2 linked regions of the Homo sapiens genome follow. The protein of the gene in region 2 purifies or fractionates together with the protein of the main gene of each other region. This does not show direct contact. Each region holds a gene or a part of one and is shown on either strand. Other genes may lie near its edges.

Evidence for each region.
Region 1: the proteins of SLC30A9 (region 2) and COQ7 purify together in Homo sapiens (affinity purification with mass spectrometry; one large-scale study listed by BioGRID and IntAct). This does not show direct contact.

The regions. Positions count from the first base shown.
Region 1 is NC_000016.10:19,074,114-19,077,935, reverse strand, and holds part of COQ7 (NADPH-dependent 3-demethoxyubiquinone 3-hydroxylase, mitochondrial), read right to left. Parts: intron 2,216-3,822; coding exon 2,076-2,215; intron 631-2,075; coding exon 562-630; intron 1-561. UniProt on the Homo sapiens protein: Catalyzes the hydroxylation of the 5-methoxy-2-methyl-3-(all-trans-polyprenyl)benzoquinone at the C6 position and participates in the biosynthesis of ubiquinone.
Region 2 is NC_000004.12:42,066,779-42,070,600, reverse strand, and holds part of SLC30A9 (proton-coupled zinc antiporter SLC30A9, mitochondrial), read right to left. Parts: intron 3,517-3,822; coding exon 3,409-3,516; intron 76-3,408; coding exon 1-75. UniProt on the Homo sapiens protein: Mitochondrial proton-coupled zinc ion antiporter mediating the export of zinc from the mitochondria and involved in zinc homeostasis, zinc mobilization as well as mitochondrial morphology and health.

The sequences.
Region 1 (3,822 bases), on a different chromosome or scaffold from region 2:
TCAAAAGGTCGGAATGCCTCTGCTACTACTGCCAAAGCATTGGAGTCATCCAGATTCTCACAGGAAAGGAAATGAAGCTCCTGGGAGACCAAGGCAGGCAGCTCACCTGAGGTCAGGAGTTCGAGACCAGCCTGGCCAACACAGTGAAAACTCGGTCTCCACTAAAAATAAAAAATACAAAAATTAGCCAGGCATGGTGGCATGCACCTGTCATCCCAGCTACTTGGGAGGCTGAGGCAGAATTGCTTGAACCTGGAAGGAGGAGGCTGCAGTGAGCTAAGACTGCACCACTGCACTCCAGCATGGGAGACAGAGTGAGACTGTGTCTGGGAAAAAAAAAAAAAAGCTTCTGGGGAAAAGGAGAAGGCATAAAGCAAGAAAGGAGATTCCCAATCTGGAGCAATAATGCGTTTGCTTGCTTTTTGTCAAAGCAACGTCATTGGTTTTCTCTCCCTTTCGCTGTCACTTTAAAATGTATTTTTCTGGCAACAGAAACCTCCTGCCCCTTCAGCCTCCCAAATAAGGAGTCCCAAAGCAGAACAGGTAACAGTAGGGCCCTACCAATTCTGCATCATGGTCGAGGCCTATGTCATGGTGCTCAAGCTCTTCATCCCGAAATTTCTTTATCAGCTGGTTAAATAAAAAGACACCAAAGCAAGTTAGCCTTCCAACTCTCCTGCTGTTCCATTTCATTTTGGAGGCTAAAGCCTCTTATTATGGCCTAAGACAGGGAGGCCAGCTTTTCCTCTAAAGGGCCAGAGAGTAAATACTTTGTTGCAACTACCCAACTCTGCCACTGTAACCAGAAAAGCAGCCGGAGACATGCAAACAAATGGACGTGCTTGTGTTCCAATAAAAGTTTATTTAAAGAAACAGGTGGCTGGCCACAGGCCATAGTTTGCCAACCTCAGATTTAGACTCTAAAAAACTAAACAGTTCCCTTATTTGCTGTGGAAAATTATCTCAGGATATCTATTCATTTATTCAATCTAAAGGGTTCCTGCTCACAGCATCTGCTCAGAATCTACCAATGATAAAGAAGTGGGCCGGGCGCGGTGGCTCACGCCTGCAATCCCAGCACTTTAGGAGGCCAAGGCAGGAGGATCACCTGAGGTCAGGAGTTCCAGACCAGCCTGGCCAACATGGTGAAACCCCGTCTCTACTAAAAATACAAAAATTAGCTGGGCGTGGTGGTGCATGTCTGTAATCCCAGCTACCTGGGACGCCGAGGCAGGAGAATCGCTGGAACCCGGGAGGCGGAGGCTGCAATGCAGGCGGAGACCACTGCACTCCAGCCTTGGGGACAGAGTGAGACTCCATCTCAAAAAAAAAAAAAAAAAAAAAAAAAAAGTGAACAGCACCAGGTGGTGTGGCTCACACCTGTAATCTCAGCACTTTGGGAGGCCGAGGCAGAAGAATCACTTGAGCCCAGGAGCTCAAGACCAATCTGGACAACATAGAGAGAGACTGTGCCTACAAAAAATTTTAAAAATTAAAAATAAAATAAGTGAACAGGACAGGGCTCAAGAGACAAGGGTTCTGGCCGGATGTGGTGGTTCATGCCTATAATTCTAGCACTTTGGGAAGCTGAGGAGAGAGGACTACTGGAGCTCAGAAATTCAAGACCAGCCTGGAAAACATAGTGAGACCCCATCTCTTAAAAAAAAAAAAAAAAAAAAAATTAGCTGTGAGTGGTGGCTATGTATGTAGTCCCATAGCTACTCGGGAGGCTGAGGCAGGAGGATCACTTGAACCCAAGAGTTTGAAGATGCAGTGAGCTATGACTGTGCCACTGTACTCCGGCCTGGGCAACGGAGCAAGACCTCATCTCTAAATAAAAAGAAAAAAGACAAAGGAGACAAGGGTTCTAGTCCCAGCTCTGTCTGTGCTGTATGGCCAGGGCAGACGGGTTCACCTCTCTGTTCCTCAGTTTGCTCACCTTTAAACTGAGGCACTGACCTGAGCCTCTAAACCCCCATCATCCCCTAACAATCTCTAACATGTTTTCCTCTTACCCAATTGCTATCTGCCATTTTCCTCCTTGAGCAGCCCCGTTCTAGAGCACGGATAAATACCTGAAGAAGTTCCTCGTATTTTTCAGGGTCCTCCTCCATCAGCGTCCTGATCTGGTTGTTGTAGTGATGTGCTATGCTCTCTTCCACCGCCACGGTGCAGGCCATGGCACCTTCCTTCCCGAGCAAGGCGGTCCCCGCCCCTGGGATTGTTAAACCCAGACCAGAAAAGTAAGAGACAGATATGACCGGTAATGGAGACCATCTGTGGCCAGGGCTTCTTAACCTCTGCACCAGACATCGGGCCGGGTCATTCTTTGTGACAGGGGCTGTCCCATGCATGGTGGGATATTTAACTGCATCTCTGACCTCTACCAACTAGATGCCAGCAGTGCCAACTAAGTTTTGACAATCAAAACTGTCCCGAGGGCTGGGCACAATGGATCACGCCTATAGTCCCAGCACTTTGGGAGGCCGAGGCGGATCACCTGAGGTCAGGAGTTCGAGACCAACCTGGCTAACATGGTGAAACCGTCTCTACTAAAAATACAAAAATTAGTCAGTGTGGTGGTGGGCGCCTGTAATCCCAGCTACTTGGGAGGCTGAGGCAGGAAAATCGCTTGAAGCCGGGAGGTGGAGGTTGCAGTGAGCCAAGATCACGCCACTGCACTCCAGCGTGGGTGACAGAACAAGACTCCATCTCAAAAAAAAAAAAAAAAAAAAATGTCCCTAGGTATTGCCACATGTCCTCATCAGGGGGACAAACTCACCCTGAGGGAGAACCACTGTTTTAGGAGACACTGGATCCCAGTGTTAAACCTGGAATTACACAGTTAAGAAAAACCATTCTCTTTTCAATGCTGTTTTATCCTGACCGTGGCCAAGAGAAGTCAGCATTTGGGGTGAGTATATCTTTGATCTTTTATACCATTTATTCTTCTCCGTTTTTTAAAAGAGTGAACAGATCTCAGGTTGAGAATCGTTGTCAGGGAACAGTATTTGGCTGCAACTGAATTCTACTAGCTTTTTTTCTCTGTTGTTTATTTTTACTGTATTTTCTATTTATAATACTGACATTAGGCCAGGTGCAGTGCCTCACGCCTGTAATCCTAGCACTTCGGGGAGGCCAGAGAGGGAAGATGGCTTGAGGCCAGCAGTTTGAGACCAGCCTAGGTAACATAACGAGACCCCATCTCTACAAAAAAAATAGAGCTGTGCGTGGTGGCATGCGCCAGTAGTCCAAGATACTCAGGCTCAGAGGCTTAGGTGGGAGGATCACTTGAACCCAAGAGTTTGAGGTTTCAGTGAGCTACGACTATACCACTGTACTCCAGCCTGGGCAACAGAGTGAGACCCTGGCTCTGGTTTGTTTTTTTTTGTTTTGTTTTGGTTTTTTTTTGAGACAGAGTGTCGCTCTGTCACCCACGCTGGAGTGCAGTGGGCCAATCTTGGCTCACTGCAACCTCCAGCTCCCAGGTTCAAGCGATTCTCTGGCCTCAGCCTCCCAAGTAGCTGGGATTACAGGCACGCACCACCATGCCCGGCTAATTTTTGTATTTTTAATAGAGTCGGGGGTTTCACCATGTTGTTCAGGCTGGTCTCGAACTCCTGACCTCATGATCTGCCCGCCTCGGCCTCCCAAAGTGCTGGGATTACAGGTGTGAGCCATCACGCCCGGCCTTTTTTTTTAAAGTACTGACATTAAGATTCTATCTTAAATAAATTTAACCACACACAAAAAAAGGCAGTCAATTTAACCTCGGAAAAATATGAAGTAAACAGAATGAGGTCATAAGAGGACACAGCAAGA
Region 2 (3,822 bases):
AGATGAGGAATGCTGAGACCATGCCTAATAAGGTGCCCACACCCAAAGAACCTAGGCTGTCATACAGTGGATTGCCTAAATGAAGCACATAAAAAAATCAGTAAATTAACAGTTTATATTATTTCAGTGAACTTTATAGAGAGCAAAGAACCAGAACGAGTAAATCAAGGCACTTGAAATTTATTCCTAATTTCTTTAATTACTTCCTTTAACAACTCCTAATAGTTTTAATATACCACAAAATGAGGATGCTACAACTTGCTTTCATAAGAGTACTATGTGACATAATTAAGATCTCTTACTTGTACCTGTCATTACATATGTGAAGTTTCTGAGCACATTTAGATTAGAGACACCAATACAAAAAAATGACATAATGAAGAGTCCATTTCTTTTAGATATATCCATAGCACTTTTCCTACACCAGATAGACAAAATAACAGTGGAATCAAAAGCTGAAAGAAACCTTTTTCCGTATCTTCTTCCTACTAATGTTCTGTAAGAGAATTAAGCCCTACAGAAAATAATATGGGTGACTCTCTTCTCATCCAACCAAGGATGATATATAGCTAGTATCATTCTAGATAAAAAGGAGAGAACTTAATTCATTACATGCCATAGGTGCCTCAAGGTGGTGCTTCTCAAAGTGTGGTTCCTGGACCAGCAGCCATCACTTGAAAACTTGGTAGAAAAGCAAATTCTCAGACCTCATTTCAGGCCCCTGAATAAAAAATTCTGGATGTGGGTTTCAGCATTCTGTGTTTCCCCAAGCCCTTCAGGTGATTCTGATTCTAATATTTGCCTTAGGTTGTCAGGGCTTCTCTCCCAGAACCAATGAGAAAGGCTGATTTATCATCTATGAATGTATAGGTAATATTTATATAATAGACACCAATAAATACGTTTTAAATCTTTATAATAAATTTTACACATGGCTTTTATGACTACAAGTCTTTTTATCCCAAAGATGAAATGTCATCAATATATTTAACTCTTCTTAATGCTTGATAAAACATATATTTTGCTAAGCTGTAACACTAAAAAGCAAACTTGTTAATCTATACTAAGTGTTAAAAATGATCCGCTTGTAAAACATTATCCATTAGAAGTTTTGTAATTATAGAGCTCAAAATCAAATACTGCTCTTTAGAAATCCAAATGTGAAGAGTTATTTTTATTTAAATATATACATTCATGTACTCTTAAAGAAATTACAGGAATATTAGCTGAAAGAAAATACCTTTTTTAAGAAAACTTTTATTTCTTGGCATGTTATTTAATTTAATTTGAATAAATTAGCTAATTAAGAAAAATTTAATTCATGTAAAACACATTACATATTTTTGTAAATTTGATTTGATTGGTTTCTATTATTATGTAAAAGAAAATAAATTATTCAAAGTTGACATCTGCATCAAGTCACACTTTTCTTAAGCCTAAAATTTTGCTAGTAATTTATGTTCAAAAACAGTCTAAAACTATATGGTCAACCAGAAAAACAATCAACATTTTTACAAATATTTTGGATCACAATAAACATCAGAGAATGCTAGTTTGGTATTAAAATGCACACTCAGAATGAGAAAGAAGTATTCATATTTCAGACTATTTGAAGAAACACTGCAGAACTGTGGAAGCTCGTCACCTAAAATTATTTTAAATATGTAAGGACAAATAGAGAAGTATGGAAGAAGTTCCTTTCCAAGAGAATTCCAACTTCATAAATTGAGTCTTTTCATGCTAAATGGTTGTTTTCGAAAATAAAAATAAAATAGAATTGTCTTTTCATTTACTTGTATTTTATTGGCCCTCAAAACACTTAATTAGCTACCAAAATAAGGACACAAACAACTTAGAATTAAAGAAATAGGAAGGCAACAGTAGTTATTATTGGCATTAAGTGTGGAAAAAGACAAATGAACAAGAGCCACAATATACGGTTAAGTCCTCATTCATGTTGTCAATAGGTTCTTAGAAACTGCGACTTTATAGGGAACAACATATAACAAAACCAATTTTACCATAAGCTAACTGATACAAACAAGAGTTAAGTTCCGGCCGGGCGTGGTGGCTCATGCCTGTAATCCCAGCACTTTGGGAGGCCAAGGTGGGAGGATCACCCCCGAGGTCGGGAGTTTGAGATCAGCCTGACCAATATGGAGAAACCCCGTCTCTAATGAAAATACAAAACTAGCCGGGCGTGGTGGCGCATGCCTGTAATCCCAGCTACTCGGGAGGCTGAGGCAGGAGAATTGCTTGAACCTGGGAGGTGGAGGTTGCAGTGAGCCGACATGGCACCATTGCATTCCAGCCTGGGCAACAAGAGCAAAACTCTGTCTCAAAAAAAAAAAAAAAGAGTTAAGTTCCTATGGCATATTTCTGGTCACAAAAACATCACTCAACTTCTAAGACCCAAAACATGTCTAATATTGAACACTGAAATAAATGTGGGCTACATATACATTTTTAAAAATTAATAAAAACTATGTAAAATAATTATTTACCCAATTTTTGGTGAATCAGTGAGTATCAGCAATAGTAGGGGTGGTGAGTTAAATCAAAGAATAAATGTTTGCAAAGTGAAAATTGTAAGGAACACCTATCACCACATAATTCAAAAATAAACAACCACAAATATGTAGGCTTGCTGAGCGCTTTCATACATCAGTTATTGTCCTGCATTTGTCTGATTATCATCTACTTGAGCCTATCCTAGCAGTTCAGGACACAGGAAGGAACCAGACCTGGCCAGGATGCCATCCCATGGCAGGGCACACTTACACACACCCCCACACTCACTCAGATTGGGACTATTTAGACACCCCAATTCACTGACCATGTACGGCATTGTGATGTGGGAGGAAGTTGGGGTGCCCAAAGAAAACCTATGTAGATAAAAGGAGAATGAGCAAACTCCACAGAGATGGTAGCTCCAGTTAGGAATTGATATTTTTCGCAACAATGTTATAACAAAATCAAGTTGAACAAAACAATGTTATTTGAGGACCTATGTATATTTATTTGGAACTTTAGAGTTTATTAAAACTCTCATATTTTCTTAATAAACCTAAGAGGTTACCAAGGTAAATATTATCCACACTTTTATAGGTAAATAAAAAGTTCAGAGTGATTGCACAATTTTTTAAGTCACAGCTAGAAAGACGTACAGCATTACAGAAATCCTTTACAAATAGCCTTCCTTATTTCTAATTTAGAGACATTTTTAATTCAAATAAACCTGAATACTTCTGCTGACCAAATGTCTTACATAAGTCAATGATTAGTAGGAATTAACATTTAACAATTTGTTGGTTTAATATTATTCAATGATATAAGAGAAAATTCCCACATATTAGAGAATTATTTAAGTAGGACAAATAAATCACCTGTAATTTAAGGAATATTTACCTGTTATAGAAGTAAGGCCCATGCAAGTGGCTGCTATTATAACTCCCAAGACTGCAGCAGTATCCTCCAATAATATCACATTTGTACTAGGATCACGACTTTCCATTACTAGTCATTGGGGAAGAGACAAGACAAGAAAATTTCTAAAATCTTAACTTGATACTATCAGGTAACATTTTAATAAGTATCCATTTAAAATCAAGATATAAGTTAAGATAAAAAAGTGTATGAGAGATTATGATTTTAAAAACCTTGCTCAATGCAAACATAATTTCTTGGCTTAAATGTCAACAATAACTGATACATAAAGTCAAATTACTTTCTCAAGTTATATAACCATATAAAGAAATACCTTAGTTCACTTAAGTCAAATCCAAATATAAAGTATCCATGTTCAAATTTCTATACTACATT